Linked DNA regions of Homo sapiens. The protein of the gene in region 1 interacts with the protein of each later gene in a pairwise test. Each region holds a gene or a part of one and is shown on either strand. Other genes may lie near its edges. The genes, in order: KIFAP3, NAV1, PARD6G, DHX37 and GTSE1.

The links.
Region 2: the proteins of KIFAP3 (region 1) and NAV1 interact in a two-hybrid assay, tested with the Homo sapiens proteins (one large-scale study listed by BioGRID).
Region 3: the proteins of KIFAP3 (region 1) and PARD6G interact in a two-hybrid assay, tested with the Homo sapiens proteins (one large-scale study listed by BioGRID).
Region 4: the proteins of KIFAP3 (region 1) and DHX37 interact in a two-hybrid assay, tested with the Homo sapiens proteins (one large-scale study listed by BioGRID).
Region 5: the proteins of KIFAP3 (region 1) and GTSE1 interact in a two-hybrid assay, tested with the Homo sapiens proteins (one large-scale study listed by BioGRID).

What each region holds. Positions count from the first base shown.
Region 1 is NC_000001.11:170,063,262-170,069,585, reverse strand, and holds part of KIFAP3 (kinesin-associated protein 3), read left to right. Parts: intron 1-668; exon of another isoform or gene 669-2,082; intron 2,083-6,324. UniProt on the Homo sapiens protein: Involved in tethering the chromosomes to the spindle pole and in chromosome movement. Binds to the tail domain of the KIF3A/KIF3B heterodimer to form a heterotrimeric KIF3 complex and may regulate the membrane binding of this complex.
Region 2 is NC_000001.11:201,810,311-201,816,634, forward strand, and holds part of NAV1 (neuron navigator 1), read left to right. Parts: intron 1-212; coding exon 213-448; intron 449-1,292; coding exon 1,293-1,447; intron 1,448-1,592; coding exon 1,593-1,664; intron 1,665-2,154; coding exon 2,155-2,351; intron 2,352-2,829; coding exon 2,830-2,948; intron 2,949-6,324. UniProt on the Homo sapiens protein: May be involved in neuronal migration.
Region 3 is NC_000018.10:80,204,361-80,210,684, reverse strand, and holds part of PARD6G (partitioning defective 6 homolog gamma), read left to right. Parts: intron 1-6,324. UniProt on the Homo sapiens protein: Adapter protein involved in asymmetrical cell division and cell polarization processes. May play a role in the formation of epithelial tight junctions. The PARD6-PARD3 complex links GTP-bound Rho small GTPases to atypical protein kinase C proteins.
Region 4 is NC_000012.12:124,946,817-124,952,043, reverse strand, and holds the end of DHX37 (probable ATP-dependent RNA helicase DHX37), read left to right. Parts: intron 1-1,239; coding exon 1,240-1,354; coding exon of another isoform or gene 1,355-1,391; intron 1,392-1,493; coding exon 1,494-1,631; intron 1,632-1,800; coding exon 1,801-1,895; intron 1,896-1,984; coding exon 1,985-2,058; intron 2,059-3,862; coding exon 3,863-3,960; coding exon of another isoform or gene 3,961-4,100; exon of another isoform or gene 4,101-4,135; intron 4,136-4,156; coding exon 4,157-4,242; 3' UTR 4,243-5,218; downstream 5,219-5,227. UniProt on the Homo sapiens protein: ATP-binding RNA helicase that plays a role in maturation of the small ribosomal subunit in ribosome biogenesis. Required for the release of the U3 snoRNP from pre-ribosomal particles.
Region 5 is NC_000022.11:46,299,566-46,305,889, forward strand, and holds part of GTSE1 (G2 and S phase-expressed protein 1), read left to right. Parts: intron 1-6,324. UniProt on the Homo sapiens protein: May be involved in p53-induced cell cycle arrest in G2/M phase by interfering with microtubule rearrangements that are required to enter mitosis. Overexpression delays G2/M phase progression.

The DNA.
Region 1 (6,324 bases):
GCATCGATTGAGATAATCATGTACTTTTTTTCTTCATTCCATTAATGTGGTGTATTGTATTGAAATGCCCATGTGGCCATGTTGCGTGGTCCTTTTAATATACTCCTGTATTCTGTTTGCTAGTATTTTGAGGATTTTCACATCGACATTCATAAAGGGTATTGGTCTAAAGGTTTTCCTGTAGTGTCTTTGTCTTGCTTTGGTATCAGGGTAATGGTGGCCTCATGGAATGAATTAGGAAGTGTTTCCTCTACTGTTATATCTTTTGGAAGAGTTTGAGGGGTATTTATGTTAATTTGTCTTTAAATGCTTGGTAGAATTCACCAGTGAAGCCATCTGGTACTGGACTTGTTGAAAGGTTTATGATTACTGATTCAATCACCTTACTTCTAATTCTGTTCAGATTTTCTGTGTCTTTTGAGTCAGTTTTGGTAGTTTGTGTGTTTCTAGGAATTATTCTTTTTCATGTAGGTTATCCAATTTGTTGGTGTTCATATTATTCTCTTGTAATTTTTTAATCATCAAAAGAGCAGCAGTAATGTCCCACTTTCATTTCTGATTTTAGTAATTTGAGTCTCTTCTTTTCTTTTTTAGTCAGTCTAACTAAAAGTTTTCCAAAAATGTTTGTTGATCTTTTCAAAGAACTAACCTTTGGTTTCATTTTCTCTATTCTTTTTCTAGTCTCTGTTGCTGCTTTTTATTATTTCCTTCTGCTAGCTTGGGGTTTTGTTTGCTCTTCTTTTTCTAGCCCCTTAAGGTGTAAAATTAGGTTATTAATTCAAAATCTTTTATTTATTTTTTTAAATAGAGCGTCAGTATAGAGTGTCTTATTGTGGATCTGTTTGAGTTTATCTTTGAATTTCATTGAGCTTCTTGGATGTGTAAGTTTGTCTTTGGTCTAATTTGGGAAGTTTTTGACTGTTTTTTCTCCCAGTATTCTCTATGTTTCTTTCTTCCTCTCCTTTCATACCCTCATTATGCATATGTTGGTATACTAGATGGTGTTCCATAAGTCTCTTAGGTTCTGTTTATTTTTCTTCATTCTGTTTTCTTTCTGTGCCTCAAAATGGACAGTTTCATTTGACATATCTTCAAGTTTGCTGATTCTTTTCTCTCTCTGCTCAGATCTGCTGTTAAAAACCCTGTAGTGATTTTTTTATTTCAGTTATTGTACTTTTCAGATCTAGTGTTTTTGTTTGGATCCTTATGATAATATATTTTTAAACTATTTATGTGTTGAGACATTGTGTTTCTCCTTTTTCTTAGTTATTTGCACTGGTTTCTTTTTGCTCTTTGGACATATTTAAGACAGTTGATTTAAAGTCTTTGATAAGTCCAGTGTTTGTGCTGTAGCATGGACAGTTTCTGTTAATTTTTTTTATTGTGAGAATGAGAATGAGTTTCTTGTTTCTTTGCATGTTTCATATTTTGTTTTGTTGAAAACTGGGTATTTTGAATATTATGGTATCCAAAGGAAAAAAAGAAAAGAAAAAAATACTCTTCAGATCTTTGTAGGTTGACTCAGTGTTTGGATATGGCTTCAACACTTAGCCAGGCAATTTACAATTTTACCTTAGCCTTCATTTGCTGCTTGCACAGAGCCTGAAGACCAGCCAGAGGTAAAAGCTTATGATCTTCCCAGGTTTTTTCTGGGTATGTATTCTGCCCTGAGCATGCTCATGGATTTCTAGATTTCTCTTTATATGCAATAGCTTTTCAAAGCATCTATTCCCCCAAAATGTCTGACTCCCTGGACTTTCCTCTTGGGCTTTCAGCTTGTGTTTTGTTTGACCCAGCTATTACTATTTATCCCAGGGGCCAGCAGCTTGTATGCTTGGCTTTCACTGATTTCAGTGACTGCATAGCTGCACTATCCTGATAAGAGTTTAAAATTAGTCAAAACAAAGGAAAGCCCCTTGCAGCTGACCTCAAAGGAAACTTCAGTCAGTTGCAAAACAATCAGACAAAATTCCTTGGGAGCAAGGTCCACTTGACTCCTCTAGAACCAAGTATTAACAGTGGGAACGTGGGCTGCCATCTTGAAGACTGCCACTGTGCTTGAGAGTGGGGTGGATGTCTAGGGTAAGTGAAAAGACCATAATGATCGCCTACCTTGTTTCTGTAACCTTTCTTCTGATTAAACATTCACTTGGTTGCTGTAAACCTTTGACTGTCTTCCAGAGTTCTGATGAGGTTGATTGTGATAGGTTTTTTTTGCCAAGTTTTTAGTGCTTCTGGGGAGTGCCAGCCTCTAGAGGTCCCTACTCTGCCGTTTTCACTGATGTCACTTAGCCATTATCTTTTCATATATTGCTCTGTACCCATTCTCTCTCACCTTTTTTCTGGGACTTCAAGTACATATGCTAGACCTACTCAGTATGCATTGCTGAATTATACTTTTGCTTGTGTTTTACATCTTTTTGTCTCTATGTTTTATTCTGGGTGTTTTCTTCTGACTTATATTTTATGCCATAAATTATCTCCTTACCCGTATCTAATCTGCTATTAAACCTATTTATTTATTATTATTCTTAATTTTGGTTATTGTATTTTTAATTCTAGAAATTTAAAAAAATTATCTAGTTTTTTCTGAAGATGACTATTCTTTGAGTATCATATATAGGAATATAAATGTATAAATAATCATTTGAGGCTCAGGATGATGTTCTCTTTTTCCAGAGAAGATTATATTTTATTTATGTTAGTAAGGATTACTGAAAATTTAGGGTCACCTTAATTAGTTCTCAGAGATTCAATTACATTAAACTGGGCTTTTTAGTCTTGTTGGTGACCGATCTGCATCTGTTTCACAGTTACTCCTAGGAGGTAGTCCTCCTGTTTCAAGCTTAAAGCTTGGAGCTTTACCAGAGCCACTGTTGTTTGGTGCACTCTAGAATCCAGTTTTTGTGTCTCTAGCCTCATGTGATTATTAAAAGATTCTCAACCTCTCAGCCCTCTCTTTTCAGTTAGCAGATACCTCTAGGGAAAAGTAGCCTCAAATTCAAGATTTACCTCTCTTCATTTTCTTTTTCTCCTGGATCTTGGCACTGTAATTTTTTGTGCCTTTTTAGTTCTCTTATGGCCTCAAACAGATACACACATACGTGTTTTTGCCCCCAGCTTTTAAGATTTTCTTAGAAGGTGCATTGGTTTGAATTACCTTAATCCTCTGTTTCTCTATTACCAAGTCTAATGTTAGTAATAGAAATATAAAACTTGTTTTGGTTTTACCAATATGAAAAGCATCAGGAATTATAAATATTTGAGTACATATAAGAGATTATTTCCCTCTTAATTTTTTAAAAATACATATGACTTGAAAGCAAAAATTATGAAATTTTTGTGTGAGTTTATAAGGTATGTACACATAATGCATATGACAGCTATAACATAAAGAATGGGGGGGGGGGTGTAGGCAATAGACCTGCAATTTGTGAAGTAGCACAGCATTAATTCTTAAATACCTTGTGAAAAAAAAAAGGTAACTAAAACATTGTTTTTCCTAAAGCAACCACCAAAAACAGTTTTTAAAAGTATAGTGAAAACATCTACACAAAATGGAATTTAAAAAATAATAATTCACAAGGCTGTTAGGAAAATAATCAAAGTATAGTTGGGCCAAACAGGAAATAAAAATGAAGTGATAGATCTGAATCTAAGTATGTCAGTCATTGCATTAAATGATCCAAAACAATAATGTCCAATAGAACTTTCTTCCCTGATGGAAATGACTTACAGCTGCATCATCAAATACATAGCCACTGGCTGTATGGCTAATGAACACTTTGAACGTGGTTAGTACAGCTAAGGAATTGCATTTTTAATTATTTTTAAAATGTAATGTATTTAAATTTAATTTTAAATAGACCCATGTAGCTAGTGACTATTGTATCAGACAGCATAGGTTTTAATGTTCCAATGGAAAGGCAGAGATTACCAATATTTCTTTTTTTTTTTTTTTTTTTTTTTTTTGAGGTGGAGTCTTGCTCTGTCGCCCAGGCTGGAGGGCAGTGGCATGATCTTGGCTCACTGCAAGCTCCGCCTCCCGGGTTCACGCCATTCTCCTGCCTCAGCCTCCCAAGTAGCTGGGACTACAGGTGCCCGCCACCATGCCCAGCTAATTTTTTGTATTTTTTAGTAGAGACAGGGTTTCACCATGTTAGCCAGGATGGTCTCGATCTCCTGACCTCATGATCCACCCACCTCGGCTTCCCAAAATGCTGGGATTACAGGCGTGAGCCACTGCGCCCGGCCACCAATATTTCTTTTATAAAGAAAAAAGAAAAGCAAGACCCAACTATCTGTCATCCCCAAAAAATATACTTTTAAGTATGGACATGGTAAGTTAATGGTAAATGGGTGCAATCAAACAGTAAGCATAAGAATGCTAAAATGACCATATTAATGTCAGATAAAATAGGCTTTAAGAAAACGTATACTGTAAAAACTACAGAGGAGTATTTCATACTGATAAAATCTGCTACATCCAGACAGTTTTAAAGTCAAATTCTAACAAAATTTTTGGGAAACAGATGCTTCCAATTATGTACAACTCTTCCAAGAAGTCTAGAAAAAAAAGGATACTCCTCAACTAATTTATATTAAGATTTTAGAATAATCTCCATATGAAAGTCAGAAAAAGGACATTAGAAAGGAAAATTGCAGGCTGAATGAGCAAGGATGCAAATTTAATCTAACAGTGCTTTAAGACAGCATTAACAAGTTGTGCTTATTCTAAGAATATGAGTATGGTTTTATGTATTTAATGAATTTGATGTAGTATATTTATGAATTAAAGAAGAACAATACATGATCCTCCAATGGATGCAGAAAAACATTTGATGACATTCACTACACATTCATGATTTAAGGAAAAAACTAAAGCCATAAATAAAAGGGAATTATGATATAAACATATTAAATGAGGAAACTAGCCAGGTGTGTTGGCTCATGCCTGTCATCCCAGCACTTTGGGAGGCTGAGGCTGGTGGATCGCTTGAGCCCAGGAGTTCAAGACTAGCCTGGGCAATATGTTGAAACCCCATCTCTATAAAAAATACAAAACTTAGCTGGGCATGGTGGTGCATGCCTGTAGTCCCAGCTACTTGGAAGGTGGAGGTGGGAGGATTGCCTGAGCCTGGGAGGCAAGGCTGCAGTGAGCTGTGATCACACCACTGCACTTCAGCCTAGGTGACAAGAGTGAGACCCTTTCTCAAAAAATAAAGTAACATCAGTAAATGAGGAAACTTTAGAAACATTTCCCTTAACATTAAGGATGATCCAAGGATACCTATGTAACCACCTCAACATTTCACCAGGAGTCCTAAACAGGTAGTAAGATAAGAAATAGAAAAGGTATAAAGATAGGAAGAGAAGAAATGAAACTGATATTATTCACAAATTATATATTAGTTTGTAGAGAAAACCTAAAATAATGTTCAAGCTATTGGCATTAATATCAAGGTATTAAGCAACAGTTGCTGGATGTAACATCTATATACCTCCCACTCCCAAATTGAATTTTGATATAGTTGGTTAAATATTGTTAGCAAAAAAGTTATTTACAAATGCAAATAACAATATAAGGTACTTGGGAATAAATCTAATAATAAATGATGGGCATCACCTTTCTAAAGAAATTTATATCATTTCATTAAAAGAAAATTAAATCTTAAAAGTAGATTTATCATTTTCATGGATAGATGCCTTAATCTGAAAATTCATTATGTCAGTCATTATCCCAAAAGGTATTTTACTGAATTTGAAACACAATTTTAAATTTTTAAGTGGACAGGGAAAGGTCCCGCAATACTGAGAAAAATATGGAAGAGCCAGGTTGGGAACACTTCCCTCAGGTATCGATGTAAAAATAGCTCAGTAAACCAACTGAATAAAATGAAAAGCCTAGAAATAGACACACATGGGTGTGTCTATGGGTTATTCTTGCCCACTACAGAGAAAAAAACAACTCACTGTGACAGCGGTATTGCAGTAGAGTAAGAGTTTAATAATTGCAGGGCTAGCCAAGCAGCAGGGTGGGAGTGTTACTCATACAAGCCTCCCCCAAAAGTTGGAAGTTAGGGTTTTTCAAGGACAGTTTGGAGGGCAGAGGGCTAGGAAATGGGAGACACTGATTGATTGACTTGGGGATGATATTATAGCAGGTTTAGCTATCTTCTTGTGCTGAGTCAGTTCCTGGGTGGGGATCACAGAACCAGTTGAATTAGTTCAGTGGTGTGAGTCACAGGTCCAGGTGGAGTCAGTCAGTGTCCAGAATACAAAAGTCTGAAAAATATCTCAAAGACTAATCTTAGGTTTTGACAA
Region 2 (6,324 bases), about 32 Mb from region 1:
GCTTCACTCCTCACCCCCAGCTCACAGCATGTCCCTAAAAAGAAGATCTAAGTTTTCAAAACTAGGGGTTAAGGGACTCTTATGGAACCATGGGGCAAGTGGCTCTGAGTTTCTTCAGGGGGCTCCTAGATAAAGAAAGAAAAGCCCTTTAGGATCCCTTGCTATCCTCAAGACCCTGGTCAATACTCATGCTTTCTGGGGTGGGGGTTCAGGTCTGAAGGAGAAATGCGTCGACAGCCTGGTGTTCGAGACGCTGATCCCCAAGCCGATGATGCAGCACTACATAAGCCTCCTGCTGAAGCACCGGCGCCTCGTCCTCTCGGGCCCCAGCGGCACGGGCAAGACCTACCTGACCAATCGCTTGGCCGAGTACCTGGTGGAGCGCTCTGGCCGTGAGGTCACAGAGGGCATCGTCAGCACCTTCAACATGCACCAGCAGTCTTGCAAGGTGGCTGCCCCCCGACACCCCTGCCAGCCTTTGTTCATGCCTCAGCCTTCCCTAAGACCCTTCCTCGGCCCCTTCCTGCCTCATTGTTCCCTTTTCCTCACCTCTGCCTTCATCTTTCTTCTCTTCTGTGTTCATTTCCTTCCCTCTCTATCTATCCCCTTTTCCAGTCTTCTCCTTTCCCTCCCCACGATTTCTTTCCAGCCTCTTGCCTTTAACTTGTTTCTCCACACTTTCCCTTGCCTTTATGGAGAAAGGCTTTCCTCTCCACACTTTTCCTTGCTTTGTGCACCTTCCTCCTCAGTTGGTCATTGATGAAACTGCATTCTCCTCATTTCTACCCCACTGTCTGCCAACCCTGTCAATCCCATCCCTTCTCTTTTGTTCTCTTCCTTCTACTTTTCTTTTCAGTATTACTCTCTGACCTTGGGCTATCTGGGAAGAAGCACTCAGAATTAAATGGTACATATTACACCCTCCCCTGCCAAAACCTGATGATGTCTCTTGAGTACCCTAATACAATGGAGTTGGTTCAGATCTTTGCTCTTCCCAGCTCGGGGAGGCATGCCCATTAGTAGTAGTCCATGGTACCAGTGAAAATCCATCTAGGAAATAGCATATGTTCCCCAACTTTGGGGAATTTAGGGGCTGCTGCTTAAGAGGGTTGCTTTAGAGCCTTTGCAACCACTGCTTATCACTCTGTGGTAATCTGCTGTAATCAAATTTGCAAGGAACTAAAGGCCCCAGGGGAATCTAGATCTAGTAAGACTTCTTCAAAATCCTGATTTCCAAGGCCGATCCAGCTGCTTATTCCCAAGTGCTGACCCACAGCCTTCTTTTATTCCAGGATCTGCAACTGTATCTTTCCAACCTAGCCAACCAGATAGACCGGGAAACAGGAATTGGGGATGTGCCCCTGGTGATTCTATTGGATGACCTGAGTGAAGCAGGCTCCATCAGTGAGTTGGTCAATGGGGCCCTCACCTGCAAGTATCATAAATGGTAAGTAAGCTGGGATCAAGACAAAATTCATCGAAGTGGGAGGAGGGAGAACCCAGTCCAGGACAACCTATGAGTTGTGTGCATGTGGCAGAAAGCAAGTGTGAAGGCAAGTCTAAGTGAATCTTTTTCCCCTTTCTCCCTACAGTCCCTATATTATAGGTACCACCAATCAGCCTGTAAAAATGACACCCAACCATGGCTTGCACTTGAGCTTCAGGTAAGACCTCTAGCTCTGGATGAACCTTCTGACCCTACCCAAGAGTCTTCAATCCTGGACTCTGGCCAGGAGGCAGTAGATAGGAGAAGGAAAGAGAAGTATCCAGAGCTTTTTGGGCTGGAAATAGAAAGTAGATGTATTTGTCATGTCAGTTACAAGGTGGAGGAGGACACTTGAGGAGAGAAAAGGCCTGCTAAGCTAAGAGAGAGCCAGGTAGGTTGCTCTAAGCAGAATTAGGATTCTCTGCCCGCACACGCTGATCTGGGTCAGTGATGTCAGAAGGTTATCCGAAGAGGGCTACCAATTTGAGAATCAGCTCTACCACCCCAGGGCTGCTGCTCTGAGTTCCGATGTCCCCACTATTACTTGAAAAGAAACCAAGTAGGCATTAGTGAGAAGCAGGCAGAAGGAGGGACAGACTGGCAGGGGCTGAACCCTGACAATGTCCCCATTGCCACTCTGACCCCACTTTCCCCATCCTTGGTGGCAGGATGTTGACCTTCTCCAACAACGTGGAGCCAGCCAATGGCTTCCTGGTTCGTTACCTGAGGAGGAAGCTGGTAGAGTCAGACAGCGACATCAATGCCAACAAGGAAGAGCTGCTTCGGGTGCTCGACTGGGTACCCAAGCTGTGGTATCATCTCCACACCTTCCTTGAGAAGCACAGCACCTCAGACTTCCTCATCGGTACTGGGGTCCAGCTTCCCCCGGGGGTCAGGAGGTGGCTTCCCTTTTCCACTGTACCACCTGGAGGGATGCTCCCTTCTCTTCCTGGAGTCTTCGGCATGTAAAGGAGCTGCAAGCCTTGTGGCTTCAGACTTAGAACCACTTAACGAGCCTTCCCAACACAGTTAGCACCACTTCAATCACCAGAAAGCTAACCCCTCTCCTTGTTTTTTTCCCACAATTAACAGAAAAAAGGAGGCACATATGTAGGAAGGAATTAAACAGCTTTCCTCACTCCCTTATCTCACTTCTACCTTGTGAAGCAGGACTTATGAGATTGCCATCTAGGCAGTCAGCACCCACTAGTCTTGACAACTCTAAATTTCCTTTAATCCTTTGACTGTCAGACCCCTCTGCCTGGTACTAAGGAGTAAAAGAGGCACACAACCGGGAAGATCTAGGTTCCCAGCCATCTTCATGGCCCCATCCTCTTCCCTAGGCCCTTGCTTCTTTCTGTCGTGTCCCATTGGCATTGAGGACTTCCGGACCTGGTTCATTGACCTGTGGAACAACTCTATCATTCCCTATCTACAGGAAGGAGCCAAGGATGGGATAAAGGTGAGCCCTACCCCCTTCACTCAAACCCTAAGATCAGGCTGTCCTACCTAACAAAGTAGGAATGTTTCTTTAATGTTAGGCATGGGACTACTAGGATTAGTTAGGTTCTCTTTCTAACAGGTGGAGCAAGGCACTGGGTAGACTAAGCTGCTTTCCTGCCTCCAGCTGCCATTCAGCAAATGGTACAATGACCACTGCCTCTGGGGCCATCTCTCCAGTCCTAGGCCTTCTGGCTCTAAGCCCAATTTAAACCACTCTCTAGGGGTCAGAGCAAACAGAAAAATAATTGAGCTAAGAAGTAAGTAAAACCCTAATTAAAACAAACAAACAAACAAACAAAACCTTAGCTACTTACTACTAATAAGTATGTTATATTAACCAAGTTACTTGACCTTTTTAAATACCCTCATATGTAAAAAAAAAAAGGAGACATCACCTTCTGCTCTACCTAAATCACTGGAGTCTTTTGAAGACAAAATGAAATATGTGAAAAGATTTTTAAAAGTTAGAATAAGGAGACCGGGCGTGGTGGGTCATGCCTGTAATCCCAGCACTGTGGGAGGCCGAGGCGGGCAGATCACCAGGTCAGGAGATCAGGACCATCCTGGCTAACATGGTGAAATCCCCTTTCTACTAAAAATACAAAAAATTAGCCAGACGTGGTGGTGGGCGCCTGCAGTCCCAGCTACTTGGAAGGCTGAGGCAGGAGAATGGCGTGAACTCGGGAGGCAAGAGCTTGCAGTGAGCTGAGATCACGCCACTGTACTCCAGTCTGGGCAACAGAGCGAGACTCTGTCACAAAAACAAAAACAAACAAACAAACAAAAAAACTTAAAATAAGGCTGGGCCTGGTAGCTCTCGCCTGTAATCCCAGCATTTTAGAAGGCTGAGGCGAGAGGACTACTTGAGCCCAGGAGCTTGGGCAACATGGGAGACCCTGTCTATACAAAAAATAAAAAAAATCAGCCAGGCATGGTGGTGCACACCTGTAGTCCCAGCTACTCTGGAGGGTGAGGCCAGAAGATCACTTGAGGCCAGGATATACAGGCTACAGTGAGCCATGTTCTCACCACTACACTCCAGCCTGGGCAACAGAGTGAGAACCTGTCTCAAAAAAAAAAACAATTAAAATTAAAAGTTAGAATAAAAACTTAGTGCAAAAGGAACATGTCATTTTCTTAAAACCACCTCAGTTTTCTTACCTGTAAATTAGGGTATGATGATCACTAAAGTCCATTCCAGCACTAATAAACTGTGATGTAATGGCTAGACCCATGGGTCATATATTATCTGTAAAAGTAACTTGTTATTGAGATAGATATCTCCTGGTGATATAGTAAATTTCTAAAGATGCTGTCAGACTGATGCCAGAAATCATTATTTCATTTATAAATTATATTATTTTAAGGAAATGTTGCATTATTATTAGTAGCTTTTCAATTTAAAAGCATTTTCACACAGATAGTATTTGTTTTCAAGAAAGTAAAAAACAAAAAAAAAGCCGGGTGCGGTGGCTCACGCCTGTAATCCCAGCACTTTGGGAGGCCAAGGCAGGCGGATCACAAGGTCAGGAGATCGAGACCGTCGTGGCTAACACAGTGAAACCCCGTCTCTACTAAAAATACAAAAAATTAGCTAGATGTGGTGGTGGGCACCTGTAGTCCCAGCTACTCGGGAGGCTGAGGCAGAAGAATGGCGTGAACCTGGGAGGTGGAGCTTGCAGTGAGCCGAGATCACCGCCACTGCACTCCAGCCTGGGTGACAGAGGGAGACTCTGTCTCAAAAAAAAAAAAAAAAAGTTAAAAAAAAAAAATTAAGCATTATGACTAAAGCGGAAACATTTCCTACTTGAAAAATGAAATTGTAGGGTCATGAGGTTTGTGCATGTTAAGTTTTAATGAAACCTAGGCATCCATCAGTAGATGAATGGATAAAGAAAATGTGGTATATATACACACAATGGAAAATTATTCAGTTGTAAAAAAGGAGGAAATTCAAAGCCAGGCATGATGATGCATGCCTGTAGTCCCAGCAGCTACTCTGGAAGCTGAGGCGAGAGGATCTCTTGAGACCAGGAGTTAAAGTCTAGCCTAGGCAACATAGCGAGACCTTGTCACTTAAAAAAAGGTGGGGTGGTTGGGGGATGGGGAAGAAATTCTGTCATTTGCAACAACATGGATAAACCTGGAGGACATTATGTTAAGTGAAATAAGCCAGGCACAGAAAGACAAATACTGCATGATCTCACTTATACATAGAATCTAATGAAGTCAAACTCAGAGCAGCAGAAAGTAGAATGGTGGTTACCAGAGGCTGGGCAGGGGGGTAGGTGAGTAGGAGTGGTTGAGGAGATGTTAGTCAAAGGATACAAAATTTCAGTTAGGAGGAATAAGTTCAAGAGATATATTGTACCATATGGTGACTATAGTTAATAACAATGTATCATATACTTGAAACTCACTAAGAGAATAGTTTTTATTTATTTATTTGTATTTTTGAGACGGAGTTTCACTCTTGTTGCCCAGGCTGGAGTGCAATGGCGGGATCTTGGCTCACTGCAACCTCCACCTCTCAGGTTCAAGCGATTCTCCTGCCTCAGCCTCCCAAGTAGCTGGGATTACAGGCATGTGTCACCACGCCCGGCTAATTTTGTATTTTTAGTAGAGACAGGGTTTCTCCTTGTTGGTCAGGCTGGTCTCGAACTCCCAGCCTCAGGCGATCTTCCCACCTCGGCCTCCCAAAGTGCTGGGATTATAGGTGTGAGCCATCGCACGCAGCTGAGAATAGATTTTAAGTGTTCTCACCACACACACAGAAATATGTGAGGTAAAGTCAGGTGCAGTGGCTCACACCTGTTAATCCCAGCACTTTGGGAGGCCAAGGCAGGTAGATCATCTGAGGTCAGGAGTTCAAGACCAATCTGACCAACATGATGAAACCCCATCTCTACTAAATACAAAAAATTAGCCGAGCGTGGTGGCACATGCCTGTAATCCCAGCTAGTTGGGAGGCTGAAGTAGGAGAATAACTTGAACCCAGAAGGCAGAGATTGCAGTGAGCCAAGATTGCACCATTGCACTCCAGCCTGGGCAACAAGAGCGAAACTCCCTCTGGGAAAAAATATATATGTAAGGTAATACATACGTTAATTAGCTTGATTTAGCCATCCCACGGCAAATACATATTTCATAACATCATGTTATACATCATAAATGCATATAATTTTTGTTGATTAAAAAATGAATAAAATAAATTGAAAAAATAAAAATTAAATATTTTTTAAAGTTTTAATACAATCTGCTAAATTATCCTCCAAAATTATTTTACAATTTATACCAACTTATTTCCTTGTTTGGAAACTCAGGAAAACTCCACA
Region 3 (6,324 bases), on another chromosome or scaffold:
CAAAATAAACTTGGCCCATGGAAAAAAACTTTTTTTTAAACTTTGATCATATTAGCTTTAAATGTTAAACAGCTGATGCTGATTGTGTTCAGCAAATGCCCTGGGGACAAGGCTTTTCCCACTGAACTTGACCCTATGAGAAGGGCTTTTCCTGGAGCTGCAAGACAGGTCTGACGATGACAGTCCTGAGTGTGGGCTTTGGGGAACTTCCAGACTGGTTCTGCTCCCTCCCAGGCTGTGAGGCTGCTGGATTTCACAGTTGAGAGGTGGATAGGAAGTGAAAGCACCGCAAAGCTTGCTGCTCTTACTGAGATTCAGCTGCTTTTCTAGAATAAACACTCCTTGCATTGTTGCAAGCCATTGATTAATTTCCACGGTTCTCTAAAAGTTGGTTTTGACAGTTTTTCCCAGTATTCTGTCTTTAATGGATAAGCAGAGATTTGCAGGTCCTAGTCTTCCATTCTGGAAGTGCTTGGAGATTAACTTAAAACAGCACTGTCCTGTCATCTTTCCTGTCGTGCTTCCCAGGCTCCTAGCTGTCTTGGGTTTCCATCATCTTTTTGTCTCCTTGCTTATTGACCAAGAGCTGTATGGAACATTACTTTTATCGCAACTGGCTCCAAGGTATTATTCATTCAACAAGCACTTCTCGAGCTCTATCCCTTCTTCTGGAAGGAAAAGGGTCAAAATTATGATAAGAAGTTAGAGTTGGGGGAATAGATAGATATGATTAATAGAGATTGATATGATATAGGTGATAGATGGACATTTCTTATTTTCTATTTATAGTATAATGATGTTATCATTGAATACATTTTAAAGAAAATAAAAATGATTTGCATTTAGAAGCTTTTGATACACTTTGTATTTTTTGAGACAGGGTCTTACTCTGTCATCTAGGCTGGAGTGCAATGGTGCAGTCTCACTTCACTGCAGACTCCACATCCCAGGTTCAAACGATCCTCCTGCCTCTGCCTGCCAAGTGATTGAGACTACAGGCGTGTGCCACCACGCCTGGCTAATTTTTGTACTTTTCTGTAGAGACATGGTTTCCCCATGTTGCCCAGGCTGGTATCAAACTCCTAGAGTCAAACGATCCACCTGCCTTGGCCTCCCAAAGTCCTGGGATTACAGGTGTGAGCCACCACACCTAGCCAGATGCTGATACGCTTTTGCTTATTGATCTTGGTATTTTGTATTTGAGATAATTTTTAATAATTTTAAAAGATGAAATCTCCCCCAACCCCGTTTTTTACTATCCTGTTGTAGGAATAATAGTTGGGGTCAACTACAAAATAGAATAATCATTATCTAAATAATGAATGAGGGTTCATTTAGCTAGAAGCATTGAAGAATAAGAATTTGCACACCTGTGTATTTCCCAATAACAAATAATCTTATTCTTTAAAAATAAACATGGGATTCATAGGCTTACATACATTTCTTGCCATATACCTGGAATTAGCCATTTTGCCTCGGAACCATGGGTCCTTTTAAGGGGAAATGATACAGCTCATAGTGTCAGGGTACTGGTGAGGGAAAGGTGTGTTTTTTTTTTTTGTTTGTTTGTTTGTTTTCTTTTTTCGAGATGGAGTCTCACTCTGTTACTCAAGCTGGAGTGCAGTGGTGCAATCTTGGCTCACTGCACCCTCTGCCTCCTATGTTCAAGCAGTTCTCCTGGAGCACCCTCCCAAGTAGCTGGGACTACAAGCGTGTGCCACCACGCCTGCCTAAGTTTTTCTGTATTTTTAGTAGAGATGGGGTTTCACTATGTTGGCCAGACTGGTCTCGGACTCTCCCTTGGCCTCCCAAAGTGCTGAGATTACAGACATCAGCCATCGCTGGCCAATGTGGACTTTTTGATGGGGTTATCTATTAACTTGCTACTAACCTAGGCCAGGCACAGCAATGCAATCTTTTTTAGGAAATTTGATTTTTTTTTTTAACATAAACAAGGTCTTGCTATGTTGCCCAGGCTGACCTGGAACTCCTGGGCTCAAGTGATCCTCCTGCCTCAGCCTCCAAGTAGCTGGGACTACAGGTGTATACCACCATGCCTGGCTTGAGTATTGATCTTTCATTGAAATTGGTCACTGGTTTGGAGTGAGGAGATGACCTCCCGGGATAGGATGGCTCCCTTTGAGGCATTTTATGTGCGGGATAGTAGGTGAATGAATGAAGCCCAGCAGATGTTGAAGCAGCCGTCCTGTTGTAAGTCCTGCTATACGAACAAACACCCACATGAAAAACAATGAAAATATTAGGGAGTGCCAAGTCTCCTGCTAACCTTTAATGGTGGTTTAGGCATTTTCATAGTGATCCCTGAACTCTGATGTTGTGGTCTTCAAATGTCACATGAAGCCTGAAAGAATTTTGAAAAACTACCACTATAAAAGGGGATGATATATTTTTAAGTTGGTACCTGAATTTTTTTTAGTAAATATAAATAGTTTGCAAAGGATGTAATTTACAGCATGCTGTAAATATTCCATTACAAATAAAGTTTTTGGTGCATGATCTTCTAAATACAGCCAGTGAAATCTAAATGCTGCAGTGATTTGATACAGTGAAATCTAAATGCTGCAGTGATTTGATACAGTGAAATCTAAATGCTGCAGTGATTTGATACAGTGAAATCTAAATGCTGCAGTGATTTGATACCACTATCATGCATTTTAAAATAGGATAAACAGACTCTTATTTTTGCCACTTTTCTGACTCTGAAGAGCTCTTTTCTAATCAGAAATTATACATGGTTTCTTTTTCTCTTTGATTTCTTCTTCCCATTACTCCCTCAAGAGATTTTTGTCCTAATATTTTATTCTAATAACTTATGCTTCGTTACCCCTGTTACTCTTCTCTGCAACAAAAAATATGTATAAATTGAAGTTCAAATATTTTTCTCTTGTGGTCCTGGGGCTCTATTTGTTAAAAATATTTTTAAGTTGTTTACTAGTATAGGGTTCTAGCTTGCAAGATGAAAAGCAATCTAGAGAGTGGGTGCATAACAGTGTGAATGTACACTCCTGAACTGTACACTTAAAAAGAGCTAATATGGTAAATTTTATGTGTGTTTTACCACAATTATAAATGAAATAGATTGTTATAGTAAATTTCTAGATTGAGTTATTAACAAGTATTATCAAATGGTGATTGGAACATAGTTGTGCAATTTGATAATCACTAGCCATCCAAGTAAACATCTGAAGAATCTTTCGTTTACATTAAGTATTTATTGATAATCACTAGCCATCCAAATAAACTTCGGAAGAATCTTTCATTTACTGTTAAGTATTTATTGATAATCACTAGCCATCCAAATAAACATCGGAAGAATCTTTCATTTACTGTTAAGTATTTATTGATAATCACTAGCCATCCAAATAAACATCGGAAGAATCTTTCATTTACTGTTAAGTATTTATTGATAATCACTAGCCATCCAAATAAACATCTGAAGAATCTTTCATTTACTGTTAAGTATTTATTGATAATCACTAGCCATCCAAGTAAACATCGGAAGAATCTTTCATTTACTGTTAAGTATTTATTGATAATCACTAGCCATCCAAATAAACATCGGAAGAATCTTTCATTTACTGTTAAGTATTTATTGATAATCACTAGCCATCCAAATAAACATCGGAAGAATCTTTCATTTACTGTTAAGTCTTTATTGATAATCACTAGCCATCCAAATAAACATCTGAAGAATCTTTCATTTACTGTTAAGTATTTATTGATAATCACTAGCCATCCAAGTAAACATCTGAAGAATCTTTCATTTACGTTAAGTATTTATTGATAATCACTAGCCATCCAAATAAACATCTGAAGAATCTTTCATTTACTGTTAAGTATTTATTGATAATCACTAGCCATCCAAATAAACATTTGAAGAATCTTTCATTTACTGTTAAGTATTTATTGATAAATGAGGTAGGCTGGCACTAATTGTTTTGCAATTTTTATTGTTGGGTGTCAACACTGTGAAGCTTCATTTGCACACTCAGGTAGATGAGAGTGAAGGCCCCTAAGCACAGCTCAGTTCTTTGAACTCTCAACAGGTTGTGTGACAAAAATAATAGGGTGGTCTCTCAAAATTATTTTGATAATTAGCTGACAGTTCAGTTAGGACAACTTTATATTTTGTCAAAAGCAAGTAATTGGAAACTACTTGACTTGCAAGGTTTATTGCCTGGTCATTAGAGCCATTCACTGTTTCAGTTTCTGGTAAGTATACTGGAAGGACTTTACCAAGAAGTATGTGACAATGAATTATACCTGCTAATTCCTTCATTTAGAGGACTCTTGTTTAATCTGATATCATGGGGAAATAAAAATATTTAGTACCCAATACCAATATGATTTTTAAATACAATGCTTTTGTCATGTCACATTTCACATCTCTTTTTGTCAAAACTTTGGAGCTCATTCAACATATGAAGCATGTTTACCATATAGCTGGGTTGGCAAAGTCAGCCTCATCATTAAACACAAATCAACCTTGTTTTCTCTCAGGAAACAGTCTGAATTTATTTTTCATTTCAAGTTAACATGCTAAGACATATTTTGAGAAAATTATTGAACGTACTGAGAAACTGAGATGTGTTTTAGGTTAGTTGCTAAATAAAGTTAAGACTGAAACATTGTAGAACTAACATTTAGCCTATGCTGTTTCAGGGAGGCCTGGCGTTCCTGAGGTGAAAGTGAGCTGTATCCCTTTGCGGTGATACTGAAGTGAGAATTATATAAAATTCAAAAACACTCTTACTAGTTGCATTAGACATGATTAAATTATCTTATGTATTCAGTTAAACGAAAGCCATATAGTGATACAAGGAAATTGCTTTGGAAGTTGGTATATGTATTAGTCCATTCTCACATAGCTGTAAAGAAAGACTACAGACTGGGTGGTTTATAAAGAAAAGAGACTTAATTGGCTCACGGTTCCACAGGCTGCACAGGAAGCATGGTGACCATCTGCTCCTGGGACGGCCTCAGGGAGCTTTTACTCATGGCAGAAGGCAAGATGGGAGTAGGCATCCTACATGGCAGGAGCAGGACTAAAAGAGGGGGAAGGTGCTACACACTTTTAAAACAACCAGATCTCGTGATCACTCACTCACTCACCATCACAAGAACAGCACCTGGAGTTGGGCTTAACCATTCATAAGAGCTCTGCCCTCATGATCCAGTCACCTCCCACCAGGCCCCTCCTCCAACACTGGGGATTACAATTCACCATGAGACCTGGGTGGGGACACAGATGCAAACCGTGTGAGTATATATGAGCTATGTGAGATGGGAAAGACAAGGATTGATGTTAGTGAAATAAATGCTTTGTGATCTGAAAGATACCGCATAAAACTGATGTTGTAGGCTTTACATGTGTGTCTTAAAGTTTTGGAGCCCCTGTGTGTGAAAGAATCTGCATCGCCTACATGCTGTACCAGTGTCATCCTTGGGTGAACGTTTCCCCTTGAATAACGGGGAGAGATTTCAAGGGTTTGCTCTGCTCTGCACTTCTGACAATAGCAGGAGATAGAGGAGAGCCCTTTCCTCTGCCCCTTCCAGGGTGCAGCCGTGTTCAGAGCATGTAACTGTCCAAATACCAAGTTCTGGGGTCCCACTTCTTCCCTTACTGAGTATGTAGACCGTAGGTTAGAGGGGCTTTGATTAGTCATTGAAAGTGGCTTTTCCCAAACTATTGTTATTATTATTATTATTATTAAGACTGAGTCTCACTCTTTTGCCCAGGCTGGAGTGCGGTGGCATGATCTTGGCTCACTGCAACCTCCACCTCCCAGGTTCAAGGGATTCTCCTGCCTCAGACTCCTGAGATTGCTGGGATTACTGGTGTGTGCCACCATGCCTGGCTCATTTTTTGGTACTTTTAGTAGAGATGGGGTTTCACCATGTTGGCCAGGCTGGTCTTGAACTCCTGACCTCAAGTAATCTGCCCGCCTTGGCCTCCCAAACTGCTGGGATTACAGGCGTGAGCCACCATGCCTGCCCCAAGCCAGTATTTTGAATTGTCCCATTGTTGTAGGCCCTGGAGATTTTTTTTTTTTTTTTAATTGCTGAGGGCAGTGCACAATGGATGAGAGGTTTGTTTTGCTTTTGGTAACCTGGGGGAAGTGCTTTTTGAAAGGGAGGTAGAAAAGGAGATTTGTTCTTGAGCAATTCAGTTTCACAAAGAATCTGTGGAGGTTAAGGTCTAGTGGCTGATTCCCATAAAACCAGTGGTTCTCTGTGTGTGGTCCCCAGATCAATAGCATCAGCTCTTTCAGGAACTTGTTAAAATGCAGATTCTTAGGCTGT
Region 4 (5,227 bases), on another chromosome or scaffold:
TCCTGAGTAGTTGGGACTGCAGGGGGCACACCACCACCTCCGACTAATTTTGTTGTTGTTGTTTTCTTTTTTGAGACAGAGCCTCACTCTGTTGCCCAGATTAGAGTATAGTGGTGCGAACTCAGCTCACTGCAACCTCCACCTCCTGGGTTCCAGCAATTTTCCTGCCTCAGCCTCCCAAATAGCTAGGATTACAGGTGTGTGCCACCATGCCCAGCTAATTTTTGTATTTTTAGTAGAGAAGGGGTTTCACCATTTTGGCCAGGCTGGTCTTGAACTCCTGGCCTCAAGTGATCTGCCCACCTCGGCCTCCCAAAACGCTGGGCTTACAAGCAGTGTTACCCAGGCTAGTCTTGAACTCCTGGCCTCTAGGAATCCTTCCACCTTGGCCTCCCAAAGTGTTAGGATGACAAGTGTGACCCACTGCATCTGGCCTGCATTTAAACCCATTTAAAGTGTTCAATTCAGTGGGTTTTAGTATTTTCACAGAGTTTTGCAACCATTATCATAGTTAACTTTAGAACATTTTTATTACCCAACAAAGAAACCCCACATATGTAAGCTGTGAGTCCCCAGTTCCCCGTCACCCCCGTTTTCATGATCCTGCTTTCCATCTGTGGATCTGCCTGTTCTGGACATTTGGCATGAGTGGAATCTTAACATACATGGCTTTTCATGTCTGGCCTCTTGCACTTAGTGTGATGCTTTCAAGCCCCATCCACGCCATGGCAGGTGTCGGTGCTTCCTTTTTTTTTTTTTTTTGAGAAGGAGTTTTGCTCTTATTGCCCAAGCCGGAGTGCAATGGCGTGATCTCAGCTCACTGCAACCTCCACCTCCCGGGTTCAAGCAATTCTCCTGCCTCAGCCTCCCAAGTAGCTGGGATTACAGGTGTGTGCCACCATGCCCAGTTAATTTTTTGTATTTTTAGTAGAAATGGGGTTTCACCAACATGGTGAAACCAGCCAGGCTGGTCTCGAACTCTTGACCTCAGATGATCCACCCTCCTCGGCCTCCCAGAGTGTTGGGATTACAGGCGTGAGCCATTGCACCCGGCACTTCCTTCCTTTTCACGGCTGGATCAGACTCCAGCGTGTGGATGGGCCGCATTTCCCGGCAGATGGAGCACTCTCCCACTTTTGCGGCTGGAGTGGATAATCAGATTCTTCTCCTGGGTTGAAAGTATGCGGAGCCCCTGGGCATGGGTTCTTCCCTGACCACATCACTCTCCATTCTCTGCAGACCCCTCTCCTCGACGACCCTGTCTTCATCCACCCCAGCTCCGTCCTTTTCAAAGAGCTCCCCGAGTTTGTGGTCTACCAGGAAATCGTGGAGACCACTAAGATGTACATGAAAGGTGCCGAGGCCTGCGGACAGCCCCTTGTCCCCCGATGGTGACGCTAATGGGGGTGTGGCTGGGACCCTGGGGCAGAGGCATGGCAGCCCCTCCCACGGAGGGTGCCGCTGTAACCCCAGCTTCCTCCCCCGGCCCCCAGGCGTCTCTAGCGTGGAGGTCCAGTGGATCCCGGCCCTGCTGCCCTCTTACTGCCAGTTTGACAAGCCCCTGGAGGAACCAGCCCCTACATACTGCCCCGAGCGGGGGCGGGTGCTGTGTCACCGGGCCAGCGTGTTCTGTGAGTTGGGGCAGTGTCCTGGGCAACCTGAGCCTCCTGCAGCCGTGGGCTTCTCGGACACACGGTCCTGTCCCCTGCCCCCGGACGTGTGTGTCTCGGGTGGGGCAGGGATGGGACTCGGGAGGGCAGCTGCAGGAGGGTCCCTGTCTCACTGGCTCCCACCTTCTAGATCGCGTGGGCTGGCCGCTCCCCGCCATCGAGGTGGATTTTCCAGAGGGGATTGACCGCTACAAGCACTTTGCCCGGTTCCTGCTGGAAGGGCAGGTAGGTGGCACAGCGGCTCCAGACCCTCATCTCGGGTACCGTGGGCAGCAGCAGCCCGGGCCTCACCCCTTCCTGTGGTCTCTCATCAGGTCTTCCGCAAGCTGGCCTCATACCGGAGCTGTCTGCTGTCCAGCCCCGGCACCATGCTGAAGACGTGGGCCAGGTACTGCCTTCGGTGGGAGCCTCGCAGTGGGCAGGAGGGGTCCGAGGCCTGAATGACCTCCCCGGGGCTGCCAGGACAAAGCACCACACACAGGGAGGCTTAAAACATCAGAAGTCTGTGCTCAGGTCTGAAGGCTCTGCAGAGCCACGGTCTGTGCAGCGGCTCTCGGGGAGGGTCCGTCTTGCCTCTGTCGGCCTCCTGGGCTTGTGGCCACATCACTCCAGTCTCTGCCTCCATCTTCACGTGGCCATCTCTCTGTGTGTCTTTAGTCTCCCTCCCTGTGTTCTCCTTATAAGGACACCAGTCATTGTATTCAGGGCCCACCCTACTCCAGGATGACCTCTCCTTAACTCATGACATTTGCAGTGACCCTCTTTCCATATAAGGTCACACGCTGATGTTCTGGGTGGACATGAATATGGGATAGGGGAGACACTGGGCAGCTCCCACAGAGCCGCCAGGTGTCAGTGGGAGGCATCCTGCCCTCCTGGCCCTGGGGACTTCCTCCCAGCTAAGCAGACCCCTGCCCCATCCCGCCCACCACCTCTGCTTCAGGGCTCACCCTTGCCCTCTGCCTCCTGCTTCTGCTCTCCTCCTGCCTGTGGTCCAGACCCACAGACACCTCCCCCTTCCTGGGGCTGGTGGGGCCTATGGTGCAGGGGCTTGGGGCACTGGAGGCAGGCCTGAAGGTGCAGGCAGGTGCCAGGGACTCGAGATGGGGCGTGGGGCACAGCACCCGCTGCTGGGCTGTCAGGAGCCGTGTCAGTCACTCAGCTCACGTTTTCCAGTGTGGCCCTGTCCCAGGCATGTTCTCGGGGCTGGGATACAGACACGATCTCTGTCCCACAGCAGCGTTGCTCGGCCCCAGAGGGACAGAGCAGGACATGAGTGAGGCCTCGGTGGGCAGGGGGTGGAGTGCGACTGGGCTGGTCGGGGAGAGCCTCACTGGGCAGATTCAAAGGAGCCAGGGCTGCAGCTGGGCACAAATCTGGAGGAAGGTTCTAGATGAGACAAGTTGCATGCACAGAGCAGCCTTGGTGGGCAAGGAATGTGGACCAGAGGCAGCCAGGGTGGATGGGAGGAGGTGGGATCTAGAGCCTTCTGTCCCGGGATGATTAGGGGAAGGGGACCCTTTGCCTTCTCTTTTATTTTATTATTATTATTTATTTTTTAGAAGGCCTGTCTAGAGAATTATGTTTTTTTGCTTTTGAGTTTTGTTTGTTTGCTTGTTTGTTTGAGACAGAGTTTTGTTCTTGTTGCCCAGGCTGGAGTGCAATGGCGTGATCTTGGCTCACTGCAGCCTCTGCCTCCTGGGTTCAAGTGATTCTCCTGCCTCAGCCTCCTGAGTAGCTGGGATTACAGGTGACCGCCACCATGCCCGGCAAATATTTTTGGATTTTTAGTAGAGCTAGGGTTTCACCATGTTAGCCAGGCTGGTCTCGAACTCCTGGCCTCAGGTGATCCACCTGCCTCAGCTTCCCAAAGTGCTGGGATTACAGGCGTGAGCCACCACGCTCAGCCAGTTTGTTTGTTTTTGAGACAAGTTCTTGCCCTGTTGCCCAGGCTGGAGTGCAGTGGTGCAGTCATGGTTCACTGCAGCCTCCAACTCCCAGGCTCAAGGGATCCTCCTACTTCAGCCCCCTGAGTAACTGGGGCTACAGGTGCATGTCACCATGCCCAGCCAGCTCTTCACCCTCCTGGGTGGGGCTGGTGGGGTGGTGATGCCTGCCCTGCTTTCGGGCCCCCAGCAGCAGCCGGTCTGTGCCCTGGCTGCCTGCCACCAACGTGCATTCCTGCCCCACAGGCTGCAGCCCCGTACGGAGAGCCTTCTGCGAGCCCTGGTTGCAGAGAAGGCTGACTGCCATGAAGCCTTGCTGGCTGCTTGGAAGAAAAACCCCAAATGTGAGTTTGACCAGGGCCAGGGGGTGGGAGTAGACAGGATGGGGTCACTGAGGCAGGGGCTTTGTGCTTTGTGCACGGTCAGCCCTGGCTTGGCAGAAGGATCTGGCCCCACGGCTGCTGGCCAGCTTTTTGCCACCTGAGGAGAGTCCCTGGGCCCAGGGTCACCCTGACACTGTCCTCCTTCCCTCCCCTGCAGACCTGCTGGCTGAGTACTGTGAGTGGCTTCCACAGGCCATGCACCCCGATATCGAGAAAGCCTGGCCCCCCACCACTGTCCACTGACCAGAAACCTGGCTGCAGGGCCGAGGACTGGTTTGGGGACTGGAGGGCTGGCAGCAGCCTGTCACCGTGCGACCGTGACCACCTGGCATGGGCTTCGTGGCCTGCTCTCAGGAAGTGGGTCAAGCCCTGGGAACCCTCATCCATGAGAGCTCGATCCCGTATGAAGGGTGCTGCCGCCCGTGCCATCTGGCCCGGGGGTGACTTTTTGAACTGTTTATTATATGGTGGATGATGATTTCATCTCACGTGCTGGACGCTGTTCTGTTCAGTGTGCTCTTTGGACTACATTAGTCCCCTGTGGAGCAGCAGGGCTGGAGATCTCTGCAGTCCCTTCCCCGCCCGCCCTGCCAGAAGGCCGAGGAGGCACGTGGAGGGCCTCCTTCCTGCAATTCTTCCCTCTCCAGAGTCAGGGAGGGCTGCCCAGCCCTGGCCTCACAGCCGTCCCAGATGTTAGGTGAGCCACTGAGCTCTGTGTTGACCTTGAGGGGCCTGGCTGGGGGCCCCCAGGCTCCATGCCTTCTTGGGAGGGTGGCCGCCAACGCCTTTCCTGTGTTATGGCAACAGGGAGTGGGCATCTCATCTGCCTGTGGTCAGCTCTCAGACGGCAGGGAGCGGAGCTGACGTTGGCTGTGCTTGGTCACCGCTGCCATGCCGCAGAGGATGCGCCTAGCTGGGCTGGGGCCACACGACTATTATGTTGGCCTTGAACGGGGACTGCAGAGCCCTCAGTTTGTCTCCCTTGTTCCTCTGTGGCTGAGGTGGGAGGGGGAGGGTGGGGTAGGTCCCCCAGCAAGAAAGAGGGACAGGAGCACCCCAGGCAGGACCAAGGAGTCGGGAGGCCCCTGCCTTCTGTCCTCCATGGTGAGGGCACAGATGTCTCCCCAGAGCCCAGCGCTGGCAGAATGGATTCTGCTCCTGGCTTTGCTTCTGCGGCTTCGGTGGAGACAGTTATGGAATAAAATGTTCCTTGCACCCAGATTGTGTT
Region 5 (6,324 bases), on another chromosome or scaffold:
CCTTCAGAAGATATCCTGAATCCATCTACAGACTCTCCATCTCCATCCACATGCTGCTGTCTGGGTCTCAGCCACGCTGTCTCACCGGCTTCTACTTCCCGTTGGCTAATATGTGCATTTGTAATGTCAGGGGATATTATCTGCTTCCTTTCGGATACACTTTCTACACAGTAACGTCACCTTTTAAAAACACAAGTTAGATTATAAAGCTCTTTTCTTTTCTTTTTTCTTTTTCTTTTTTTTTTTTGAGACAGAGTCTCACTGTTGGCCAGGCTGGAGTGCAGTGGCGTGATCTCGGCTTACTGCAACCTCCGCCTCTTGGGTTCAAGCAATTCTCCTGCCTCAGCCTCCTGAGTATCTGGGACTACAGGCGCCCGCCACCACGCCCAGCTAATTTTTTTTTTTTTTTTTTTTTTTTTAGTAGAGATGGGGTTTCACTGTGTTAGCCAGGATGGTCTCAATCTCCTGACCTCGTGATCTGCCCGCCTGGGCCTCCGGAAGTGCTGGGATTACAGGCATGAGCCACTGTGCTCAGCCTTTTTTTTCTTTTTGAGATGGAGTCTCGTTCTGTCACCAGGCTGGAGTGCAGTGGCGACATCTTGGCTCACTGCAACCTCCGTCTCCTGGGTTCAAGTGATTCCCCTGCCTCAGCCTCCTGAGTAGCTGGGATTAAAGGCATGAGCCACCGTGCCCAGCTAAGTTTTGTATTTTCAGTAGAGACGGGGTTTCACCATGTTGGTCAGGACGGTCTCGAACTCGACCTCAAGTGATCCGCCTGCCTCAGCCTACCACTGTGCTGGGATTACAGGCATGAGCTACCACGCCAGGCCTAAAATTCTTTTCTTAAAGCCCGGTAATAGTTTCCTATCCCACTTTGGAGAAAATAAAAGCTCCTTGCCATGGCTTGCAAACCCTCTGTGATCTGACCCAACTTGTGTTTTCACCTCTTCCAGCCACTCTGACTTCTGACCCGTTCCTCTCACACACGCTTTGATATTTTCTCAGAGGTGTTCCCACCTCTACATGTCTCTCACCGCACTGCCTGAGGCACCCTCCAGGGTGGGCTGCATGTACCCCAAGCCTGCCTGGCACCTAGCGAAGGATGTGGTCTGTTGTGGGTGCTCATGTGTTTGCAGGATGAGCAAGTCAGCCAGCCCGGGACCCCTCGGAGCCAGTCACAGAGCCTGGAGCAGAAGACTGCTTCCCTGAGTTCTGGTCCTGGATTCTTTTTCCACGCCAGACCATTAGAAGTTTCTGAAATTGACTTCCTAATTTAGAGGTGTAAAAAGTGAAATGTCTGCCTCTCTATATCTCTAAGTCACCTACTTGCCCTTCCAAGGGCCATCGATGTCATCAGTCTCTTGGGTATCCTTCCAGACATAATTTGTGCAGGTGCAAGCCAACACGCATAGAGTGTTGCATCCCCCTTTCCATATAGCATGGAGAGCCCTGTCCTGAATCTTGTTTTTCAGGCTTAATTTATCTTGATGAATATTGTGTATCAACACATGAAGAGCATTACTAGCTTTTGTACCTATATAGGGTTCCACCTTGGGGATATGTCATTCATCTCATCTGCTGTGGGTGAACATTTAGTTTGTGCCTAGAGTCTTGCTGTTACCAATGATGCTGCAGTAAATAACTGTGGACACCGTGTAACTGCACAACACATTGCTTTCCACACCTGTGAGTGTCTGTAGGATACACTTGCAGAAGTAGACTTGCTGGGTCGAAGAGGGTGTGTGTTTCTTACTTCGATAGGTACTGCCAGGCCCTCTAGAGAGCTGTGATAATTTACACCTTCCCCAGCAGTGTAGAAATTGTCTCTTTCCCCACAACCTTGCCTATAGTTCATACATCTTTGAGTTTTGCCAGTCATATAGGCGAAAACTGCATTCTCAGAGCAAGTTTATTTTTAATACTTTTTTTTTTTTTTTTTAAGACAGAGTTTCCCTTTTGTCCCCTAGGCTGGAGTGCAATGGTGCGATCTCGGCTCACTGCAAACTCCCCCTCTCAGGTTCCAGCAATTCTCCTGCCTCAGCCTCCCAAGTAGCTGGGATTACAGGCACCTGCCACCAGGCCTGGCTAATTTTTTGTATTTTTAGTAAAGATGAGGTTTCACCATGTTGGCCAGGCTGGTCTCGAACTCCTGACCTCAGGTGATCCACCCGCCTCGACCTTCCAAAGTGCTGGGATTATAGGTGGGAGCCACAGCGCCCAGCCTCATTACTCTTATTTTTGAGTGAGGCTGAACTTCTTGCCATCTATTTAAGAATGTTTCGGCCAGGTGCGGTGGCTTGCGCCTGTCATCCCAACACTTTGGGAGGCCAGGGTGGGCGGATCACCTGAGATCGGGAGTTCCAGACCAGCCTGACCAACATGCAGAAACCCCGTCTCTACTAAAAATACAAAATTAGCCAGACATGCTGGTTCATACTGATCCCAGCTACTTGGGAGGCTAGGGCAGGAGAATCGCTTGAACCCAGGAGGCAGAGGTTGCGGTGAGCCAAGATCGCGCCATTGCACTCCAGCCTGAGCAACAAGAGTGAAACTCCGTCTCAAAAAAAGTAAATAAAGAAAAATAAAAAAGAATGTTTTGTTTTATTTTCTGTGAACTTTATCTGTTTGTATCCTTTTTCTATCTTTATTAGATTATTAATTTTTTATTACTTTATAGATATGCTTCATGAATTAGCCCTTTATGAACTGAGTTGCAAATATTCTTTTCCCCATTTCTTGTTTAACTTATTGTGATTTTTGCCACACAGAGATGTTAAAATTTTAATGTTTGAAGGTCAATCTTTTATTTTTTATTTATTTATTTTCTGAGACATGTTCTTGTTCTGTTGCCTGGGCCTGAGTGTAGTGGCGAGATTGTGGCTCACTGCAGCTTTGACCTCCCAGGCTCATGCGATCCTCCTTCCTAAGCCTCCCTGGTAGCTGAGACTACCACGCCTAGCTAATTTTTGTATTTTTTGTACAGACAAGGTCTCCCTATGTTGTCTAGGCTGGTCTCAAACTCCTAGGCTCAAGCGTTCCTCCCACCTCAGCCTCCCAAAGTGCTGGGATTACAGATGTGAGCCACTGGGCCCAGCCGACCAATCTTTGGTAGCTTCCAGTTTAGTGTCATAGTTAGAAGTCCACACTCCCAAGTTACAAAAGTTTCCTCATAGCTGATTCTTGTTTGTTTAGGGCTTTGTTTTTTTTCCATTAAGTCCTTGATTTGTTTGGAATTAGGCCTGATGTGGTGTGAGGCATGGACCAAACTTAGTTGGCATTTTTCCAGATGATTATGTAGTTTATTTTAATACCATTTTTTCACTTTCCCTCTTTTTTTTTTTTTTTTTTCTTTGAGTTGGAGTCTTGCTCTGTCACCCAGGCTGGAGTGCAGTGGCGTGATCTTGGCTCACTGCAAGCTCCGCCTCCCAGGTTCATGCCATTCTTCTGCATCAGCCTCCCAAGTAGCTGGGACTACAGGCACCTGCCACCACACCCGGCTAATTTTTTGTATTTTTTAGTAGAGATGGGGTTTCACCGTGTTAGCCAGGATGGTCTCGATCTCCTGACCTTGTGATCCACCCTCCTCGGCCTCCCAAAGTGCTGGGATTACAGATGTGAGCCACCCTGCCCGGTCTACTTTCCCTCTTTATTTGATATGTTACTTTTATGATATGCCAAGTCTTCTTTATATCCATTTTGCATATTTCTTGTTAGGTTTGTTTATCGTTATTTTGCATCTTTCGTTGCTGCTAGAAACGAAGTATTTTCTTCCATGTTATCTTCTCACTGTTCTTTGTAGATATGAAAGCTGTTGATTGCTCTGTAATGATTTTGTCCTTAGCCATGTTCTTTTATCCTTTTACTACTTATAGTAGTTTCCAGTTGATCTTCTTGATTTGTTTCTCGTGTCTATAATCATGGCATCTGTGCAGTGTGATCATGTTACCTCCACATTCCTTCCTTTGCCTGACTGTGTTGCTTTATGTGTCCAGAACAGTGTTAAGAATTGTGCTTGGAGATGTCATTGCCACGTGCCTGGCTTTAATGGAATTGCTTCTGTGGTTTTTCATTAAGTCCGATACTGGGTTATGGGTTAATTTCCAAGTAAATGGTAGTCGTAGGTGTGCTATTCATGAGCATTTCTATGTGTTTGTCTTCTGGGCATGTAATAGAATTGTACTCCCTGTTCACTTGAAATTCAGTTGGCTCTGGTGACTCACTTGGCCAGTGAAATGGGAATGTTGTCGTGTGTGTCATTTCTGGGTGGAAATCTTCAAGAACCAGTGTGGAATTGGTTCTTTTCCTTCCTGCCATGGAGACGAGCGGTGTTCCTGATGGTGGAGGCTCCATCAGTTGGGGTCCTGGAGTGAGGAGGCCAGGGAGCAGGGCCCCAGCCTACCCCTCTGCAGACATATAGTTTGAGTGAGAAATATACCTTTGTGGTTTTTGGTTTGTTTTGAGACAGTGTCTCTTGCTCTATTGCCCAGGATGGAGTGCAGTGGCTTGATCATAGCTCACTGCAGCCGCAAGCTCCTGGGCTCAGCATCCTGAGTAGCTGGGACTACAGGTATATGGCACCATACCCCGCTCATTTTTTTTTTTCTTTTTGTAGAGCTGGGGTCTCGCTATGTTGCGAGGGCTGGCCTTGAACCCCTGGGCCTCAAGTGATCCTCCTTGGCCTCCCATAGTGCTGGGATTACAGGCACAGGCCACCATACCTGGCCTACCTTTGTTGTTTTAAGGGTTGTTACTTCAGCATGTTAGCCTATCCTAACTGGTAAGATCAATTTGTTCCTGTCTTTAGAAGGAATACTTCTGACGTTATCCCACTGAACCTAATGCTGGCTTTGGGTTGAGATGGGGATTTCCTTATATATCTATTACTTTTTATTAAGAGCCTCTAAAATCAAGAATGTATGTTGTATTTTATCATATGCCCGTTCAACATATGTGCAGACGATCATGGTTTTCTCTTTAGCTCTAGTAATAAAATGATTATATGAGTAGATTGTATGAAATGAAACCATCTCACAGTCATGAAATGCAGGGAGCTTGGTTGTGTTATGTTATTACCACTTTAATGTTTGCAGGATTCTTTTTGCTGGTATTCTTGTTAAAGAGTTTGATGTTAGGCCAGGTGTGGTAGCTCATACCTGTAATCCCAGCACTTTGGGAGGCCAAGGTAGGAGGAATGCTTGTTCCCAGCAGTTTGAGACCAGCCTGGGCAACATGAGGAGATCCCATCTCTACAAAAAATACAAATATTAGCCAGGGATGGTTGTGCGTGCCTGTAGTCCCAGCTACTCGGGAAGCCGAGACAGGAGGATCCCTCGAGTCCAGGAGTTCGAGGCTGCAGTGAGCTATGATTGTACCACTGTACTCCAGCCTGGGTGACAGAGCGAGACCCTGTCTCAAAAAAAGAAAAAGGATTATTATGCTGATGTAAGTAAGGCTGGTCTTTACTTTCTTTATTGATCACTTTCTAGGTTTTTTGGTAACATACTTACTTGCCTCGTGGAAGTAAGTTGGAAAGTTTTTTTTCTTTTAATCCTCTGGAGTGATGTAAATAGTATTGGAATTATTTGTTCTTTAATGTTTTGATACAATTATCCTATGAATCTAGTTGGGACGCTTTTTTGAAGAGGATAGCTCTTTAATAAATTTCACCAGTTATTTTATGATTATTGAAGTATTAAGATTTTCCCTGTCTTCTGGAGTCAGTTTTATAAATAAGTACATTTAGACAATTTAAATAAAAAATAGACTGGATGCGGTGGCTCACGCCTGTAATCCCAGCACTTTGGAAGGCCGAGATGGAGGGATCACGAGGTCAGGAGATCGAGACCATCCTGGCTAACATTGTGAAACCCCGTCTCTACTAGAAATACAAAAAATTAGCTGGGCGTGGTAGCACGTGCCTGTAATCCCAGCTACTCGGGAGGCTGAGGCAGGAAAATCGCTGGAACCTGGGAAGCAGAGGTTGTAGTGAGCCAAGATCACACCACTGCACTCCAGCCTGAGTGACAGAGTGAGACTCCATCTCAAAAAAATAAAAAGAATATACCAAGTGCAGTGGCTCACGCCTGTAATCCCAGCACTTTGGGAGGCTGAGGCAGGTGGAACACAAGGTCAGGAATTTGAGACCAGCCTGGCCAACATGGTGAAACCGCATCTCTACTAAAAATACGAAAATTAGCCCGGTGTGGTGGCGCGCGCCTGTAATCCCAGCTACTCAGGAGGCTGAGGCAGAAGAATCTCTTGAACCTGGGAGGCGGAGGTTGCAGTGAGCCAAGATCACCCCACTGCACTCCAGCCTGGGCAACA